Homo sapiens: one gene and its partner. The protein of the gene in region 2 interacts with the protein of the main gene of each other region in a biochemical or structural test. Each region holds a gene or a part of one and is shown on either strand. Other genes may lie near its edges.

What was found.
Region 1: the proteins of TECPR2 (region 2) and PDZRN3 interact in a test that uses a peptide from one of them, tested with the Homo sapiens proteins (one large-scale study listed by IntAct).

The regions. Positions count from the first base shown.
Region 1 is NC_000003.12:73,604,442-73,607,941, forward strand, and holds part of PDZRN3 (E3 ubiquitin-protein ligase PDZRN3), read right to left. Parts: intron 1-3,500. UniProt on the Homo sapiens protein: E3 ubiquitin-protein ligase. Plays an important role in regulating the surface level of MUSK on myotubes. Mediates the ubiquitination of MUSK, promoting its endocytosis and lysosomal degradation. Might contribute to terminal myogenic differentiation.
Region 2 is NC_000014.9:102,446,441-102,449,940, reverse strand, and holds part of TECPR2 (tectonin beta-propeller repeat-containing protein 2), read right to left. Parts: intron 313-3,500; coding exon 72-312; intron 1-71. UniProt on the Homo sapiens protein: Probably plays a role as positive regulator of autophagy.

The sequences.
Region 1 (3,500 bases), on a different chromosome or scaffold from region 2:
ACACAGCTAAAAAGTGGTATGGCTCAGTTTCAAACTGAGGCGAAGCGGATCCTCTTGCACATTACATGCTCTGTGTGCAATATTGTCTCCCACTGAGAAAACTCAAAACACACAGGAATTCAGAAGTCCAACATTTCAGGCTATGGAATATTCCACTAGATGAACTTGAAGAGTCTCAATGGACCACAAAAGATTTATGAACAAGCTTGAGTTCCCTAAGAGGTGATGTCAATATATCAAATGAAAAGAGATCTGTGTTTACTCTGATTTAACCACTTTGCATTTCTTGGCTGGAGAGAAAGAGGGAGATAGGGGATAGGATTTTGGCTTTCGTTTGTTTTGCAAAATACCACATTGCACATAAGTAATAACTCTTAAGGAGTACTAGAAAGTTCAAGCAAAAATCAGAGAGGAAGAAGCAAGAACAAACACCAGCAGTGAGATTAAACTGAGACAGTGGTGAGGGGTGGGGAAGGATGCAAAAAGCACATAAAGCAGGCCAGGCATGGCAGCTCACACCTGCAATCCCAGCACTTTGGGAGGCCGAGGCTGGTGGATCGCCTGAGCTCAGGAATTCAAGACCAGCCTGAACAACATGGTGAAACCCCATCTCTAGCAATACAAAAATTTAGCCGAGCATTTATGGTCCCAGCTACTTGGGAGGCTGAGGTGGGAGGATGGCTTGAGCCTGGGAGGCAGAGGTTGCAGTGAGCCAAGATTGTGCCGTTGCACTCCAACCTGGGTGACAGAGTGAGACCCCCGTCTCAAAAAAAAAAAAAAAGCTAGATTTCTCTCTTAAAAGGCATCTCTTTATTCTTAGTTTGTTTGGCTCCTCTCCTAAGAGAGTTAGTTACAGCTATTTATCAAGGTGAACTAATATGACTTGGAATTTATTTTGTTTTGCTGCCTTGAGTAAGAGAGAAATGAAAGGGGATTGTTTTCATAGCAAGGGTACCTAACGATAAAGTACACTTCCCAAAGGCTTAAGTGAGAGGTTTGATACAACAGACTAGCTGCTGTTTCTTTAGGGTTATGAGGACTAACAAATGAATGATATGATTTTGCTAAGAGTATTGCATACTGATCATGCAATGAAAAGCCTTATGTCAGAGCTATGGCTGGGCTATTTCACAACCCAACCAAGCATCTAACACAGGAATTCCTTGGGAAACACAGACATCATTTGTACTGTATTCTTCTAGTAACTAACAACGTGTGTGCATTGTTGCTCATCTTGGCTTTTTAGCATGTACTCAATGACCTGCCAGATTTTCCAGGCAACAGTGCAGAATACATTCAGGTTTCATGATGCTATTTCTGCTAATCAGGGCAAATTTTGAAAAACACTATGGCAAACACATGCACATGGAATTAAATTTTCCTCTGGGGACCATGCAGGCAGTTCTTGCAAAAAGACCACATAAATTGAAAATACTAATGCAAGCTACAAAATCAGGTCTGGCTTGTACTTAAAGCACCTTTTGTAAAAAAGAAAAAGAAAATAACTTAGACATGCTCTTTGATAAGCACAGGGAAGAACTGTATTCCAGTGGGGTTGGAATGTCATTTTGCACCTGGTGAGTGTGGAAACTGAACACCATCTTCACTGGCTTTAACACAGTAGGTTTCCCAACAATCACTTGGCCACAGGCCTCTCCATTTTGAGCAATTTCCAACAGTAGGCTTTGGTGTGGTTTAGACCTGGGGCAGGGAATAGGTCTTCTTGGTTTGGGTTCTTTTGTTTGCTATAGCTTGTGAAACACCTAATTGTGAAGTGAATCTTAATTTATTAAAGTTGTTTCTCAAAACTGGTAACAAAGGGTGGAGGAATAATTATGAATGTAAACAAGGAACAGCCAACTCATCTGTGCTAAATGGCAAAACATGTTCTTGATGGTAAGTTGTAGAACATGGGCTCATGTTCTGAACCACGGGCTCAAGTCTGACCCTGCTGCTTCCTGGAGCCAAATGTCTAGATATTTGAGTGCAGTTTGCTCCCTCAGTCCCTCCGAAGGCTGGAGAGTACGGAGGACCCCTGGCAGCAAGGACTAAATCAGAACAGCACATGATGACATGCAGCCTGGGATCTCAGACAACTGGTAAAAGGAAAAAATAAAAATATACCAACCTCACGCGGTTCTATAGTTTTTTAAGAATTCCACAGAGCGAATGCAAGAAATACAACCATGTGATGACATCCCTGGGGCTCAATAAAGTGGGAATTATCCCTGTCCCCATCTACCTTCATATTTACAATTTAGTCTCACCATTTAAAATGTTCTTTTTTATATGTATGTTTGATAAGACAGATAATGTTCATCATTTTAACAACTGCAAACACATAATTAAGTTGTTGTTTCTTATAATAAGCCATTGTTTGTTTCTTTTTGAAACTGTGGAATGGGCTAAAAGCAAAGGGAATTTAATCATAAATCTCTTTGTGTCATTCCCTTCAACTGAAGCCATGTGTTGGCCACTCCCGCCCTAGGTAATTTAAATCCCAGACTCAAGACTTAGGCCCTTTGGGGTCAAGCCCTTGTTTTCTTCACCAGGCCTCTTTCTGGCCACTTCCCTGCCCATCCCTCAACTCTTTCCACACTCTGCTTACTTGCAGCTCCCCCAGTTCCCAACTCTGTTCCTGCTCCAGGCCTTGTATGAGCGCCAATCCCCACCCCTGCAAAACCCCAGCGTCCAACCGCTTTCTTCTAGCTCAGGGGTCTTCACAGGTGAATGCGTGTAACACAATGCATTGGAATGGCAGGAGAACATACTTCACATTTTCTTCATAGTCATATTTTAATTTCATTATTTAAAATACTCCCTTTTGTACGTAACTTTTTATAAGGCACATAATGTATTCGTTTGGTACTGTGTACACATTATATATACAAATAAAATATGGTCCTCTGATCTAGCAAATTCCTGTTCAACCTTCTGAACTCAGCTCCAACGGCCCCTCCCCAGGACACCTCCTCCCGCAGGGTTAACTCATCCCAGGGCATCATTAGCTGTGGGCAGGCACAGAGTACATCAATGAGAGCAGTGCTATGCTCTCCCAACTCATCAGTCTCTCCATCTGGAGGTGAGCTCCATGAGGGCAGGGCACACACTATTCCTATCTGGATGGCTGGCATCTTCTCGTCCTTTAGGTTTCTGTTTACTACTATCTCCTCTTGTCTTTCCTGATAACCCAAGCTAATGATACCCTTTGCTTCTTGGCTGGTATCTGCCATGTGCCATCCTCCCATTTTTTTTTCCTTCATCATACTTCTTCCAATCCAATCTCTAATTATTGTATTCACTTGTTTCTTGTCTGACATCCCCACCAGGACTCAATGACCACAGGGCCTCAGTCTTTCTGGCCTCCATTGTATCTCCTGGCCCTTAGCAAACAGCCTATGTTCAATACTTATTTGTTGAATGAAAGATTTTTGTTTTCTTTTCCTTTAACTACTTTCCTTTTAAGCTAATAAACAAGGAGATGGTCAGGAAAAGAAAAG
Region 2 (3,500 bases):
TTTCTTTAAATGTTGGCTTTAAAGTGAGGCTGCCTATAAAGCCAGTGTGAAAATTACAGCAATTCACCCACCTATGAGACTTCCCTTAGCGACGTGGAATTCATTCTTGCCCGAGGAGATCCAGACACCGCTGTTATTGACCCCGAGAAGGCTTGGCTGGCACTGAAGCTGCTGGGACCAAAACGCCATGCGCAGCTTATCTGCCACCTTTTCTACGGGGGCTTGGGCTGCTGTGGCCACCGAGTGAGTGGCATGGATTATCGTCTGAAATAAGCTGCACTGGTCAAACACCACATAGTCCGTGATGCTCACCTGGAAGGAGGAGACAAGCAAAAGCCCTGCTGTCAGAGCAGTTACAAGTGTAGACTCTCTGCCTTGAGGGAAGGTTCTAGCTCAGGTCCACACCTCTGCATTTCTAGTAACAAGATGACCATCCAAACACAAATGTGCACGTGTGCGCTTGTGAAAGGACCAAAAAAATGTGGCAGGATGCCATCAAACTGCTAATGCTAACTCCAGCTCCTTCGTAGGGTTGGATTTAAAGGTATGGAAGAATATATTCACATTTTATATACTTTTATACAACATGGATCTGTTACAAGCATGTATTACTTTTGTGATTATCACCCCCTCACACCCCTTCTAAGAAGACTTTCATTCTAATCAGAGTGAGAAAGAATAATTTTGCCATCTTTTCTGAGACAGTCTTGCTCTGGCATCCAGGCTGGAATGCAGTGGCACAATCATACTCAGCCTTGACTTCCAGGATCAAGCAATCCTCCCACCTCAGCCTCCCAAATACAGGCGAATGCTACTACATGTAGCCAATTTTTAAATTTTTTGTAGAGACAGGTCTCCCTGTGTTGCCCAGGGCTGGTCTTGAACTTCTGGGCTCAAGTGATCTCCCTGCCTTGGCCTCCCAAAGTGTTGGGATTACTGGCATGAACCACTATGCCCAGCTTTAATTTTGCTTTTAAATCAGGTATTTCCAATGGACAACAGTATACGGTACTTAGAAACATAATATGCATCTAAAAAGGTATCACAAGTAGAGTGATGAACTTTTTTTTTTTTGAGACATAGTCTTGCCCTGCCACCCAGGCTGGAGTGCAGTGGTGCAATTTTGGCTCACCGCAACCTCTGCCTCCTGGGTTCAAGAGATTCTCGTGCCTCAGCCTCCCGAGTAGCTGGGACTACAGGCGCACGCCACAACAGCCGGCTAATTTTTTATATTTTTAGTAAAGATGGGGTTTCACCATGTTGGCCAGGCTGGTCTTGAACTCCTGACCTCAGGTGATCCGCCCGCCCAGGCCTCCCAAAGTGCTGGGATTACAGGTGTGAGCCACCATGCAAGGCTGTGATGAACTAATTTATGATCTGAATTGGGACTACTAATAATTACTCCAGGGCAAGAGCATCAACTAGGACCATCCTGGGTATCTAGACTCTAACCCTAGCTCAGAAGGGTAGCTTGCTTCTATAACATTCCTGAAAAGCATTCATATACCTCAGACATTTCTCCAACCACCCCTCCCTGCAGGAAGCTCTTCTCTTCTTGGGCAGCTTGATATAAGGCAAATTCTTTATGAGTGAAAATCTGATTCTCCATGATGTTCACTCACATTTCTGCCCTGCTGGGTTTGATTACATAAAACATCACTGGCATAAATGCCCTACTCCTGGTCGGGCACAGTGGCTCACGCCTGTAATCCCAGCACTTTGGGAGGCCAAGGCAGGTGGATTACTTGAGGTCAGGAGTTCCAGACCAGCCTGCCAACATGGTGAAACCCTGTCTCTACAAAAATACATATATGTATATTTTTACATGTATATGTATATATATGGTTACAAGTACACAAAAGGTATTTTAAAATCATTTGCATGACTATCAAATATTACCTAGTATATAAATTAGATACATCTGTATATAATGTACATATTATATAGAATACATATTTTATCAAAGAGTAAACACAACTCATTTTTCTACATTCTCATCTGAAAGACCTCAGAGCAGTCAATGCAAGACAAGCCTTCAACAAAGCAAGTCTGAGGTGACAATAAAACATAAACCAATGGGGCAAGATACTTCAGAAACATCAAATACTGGCCGGGCGCGGTGGTTCACGCCTATAATCCCAGCACTTTGGGAGGCTGAGGCAGGCAGATCACAAGGTCAAGACATTGAGACCAACCTGGCCAACATGGTGAAACCCTGTCTCTACCAAAAATACACAAATTAGCTGGGCCTGGTGGTGCGTGCCTGTAGTCCCAGCTACCCAGGAGGCTGAGGCAGGAGAATCGCTTGAACCCAGGAGGCGGAGGTTGCAGTGAGCCGAGATTGCGCCATTGTACTCCAGACTGGGTGACAGAGCAAGACTCCGTCTCAAAAAAAAGAAACATCAAATATTTCACGACCATCGACTATCAGTGAAATCTTACCTACCACAGTGGGAGACTGTGGGAGCAACACTAACACTAAACTATACCAAAGAAGGGGAAAGTAGACACTCCTTTGAAAATCCATTCTAGGGCCGAGGGTGGTGGTTCACACCTGTAATCCCAGCGCTTTGGGAGGTCAAGGTGGGAGGATTGCTTGAGCCAAGGAGTTCGAGACCAGCCTGGGTAACAGCAAGACCTTGTCTCTACCAAAATAATTAGCCAGGCATGGTGGCATGTGCCTGTGGTCCCAGCTACTTGGGAGGCTGAGGTGGGTCGTGATCCTGCCACCACACTCCAGTGTGGGCAAAAGAGTGAGACTCTGCCCCAGAAAAAAAGAAAAGAAAAAGAAAAGAGAAATTCATTCTAGGCGCTCTTGCTGGGACCAAATCACACACAGTGAGCTTGATTATACCCTCATCCTGTTTCTTATAGTGTTTCCTTTTCTGGAAGCACGTGGGAAAATTCTCCTGTCTTTGCTGAAATACCATCTACTTAGAGGCCTTCTGAATAAGCAGAGACAGCTCAATTTTAATTCTGGGTTGGGCTTTCAAACCTATTATCTGGGCTCTTTTCTCAGCACATTTGTTCATAATTAAACATCATTATTACCTAGGTCTTCAAATGGATGTCACTGGGTTTATTTAGCCTATAATAATAAATATATAAACAATATCAAAATAAATAAATTAAGTGCATTATTTACACAAAGAGTTTGCAAATTATTTCCTATGATGAAAAGTCCTTTATGTTTCTAATGCACTCAAACACAGCAAAGTCTAATCCATCAAATAGAAAAAAGGAATACTATTGGCTGGGAGTGGTGGCTCCACTTGTAATCCCAGCACTTTGGGAGGCGGAGAGGGTGGATTTCTCTCTCTCTCTCTTTTTTATTTTTATTTATTTTGAGACAGGGTCTAGCTCTGTTGCCCAGGTTGGAGTGTGGTGGTGTGATCTTGGCTGAAACCTTTGTCTCCTGGGCTCAAACTATTCTCCCACCTCAGCCTTCCGAGTAGTTGGGACCAACGGCGTGTGCCACCATGTCCAACTAATTTTTGTAT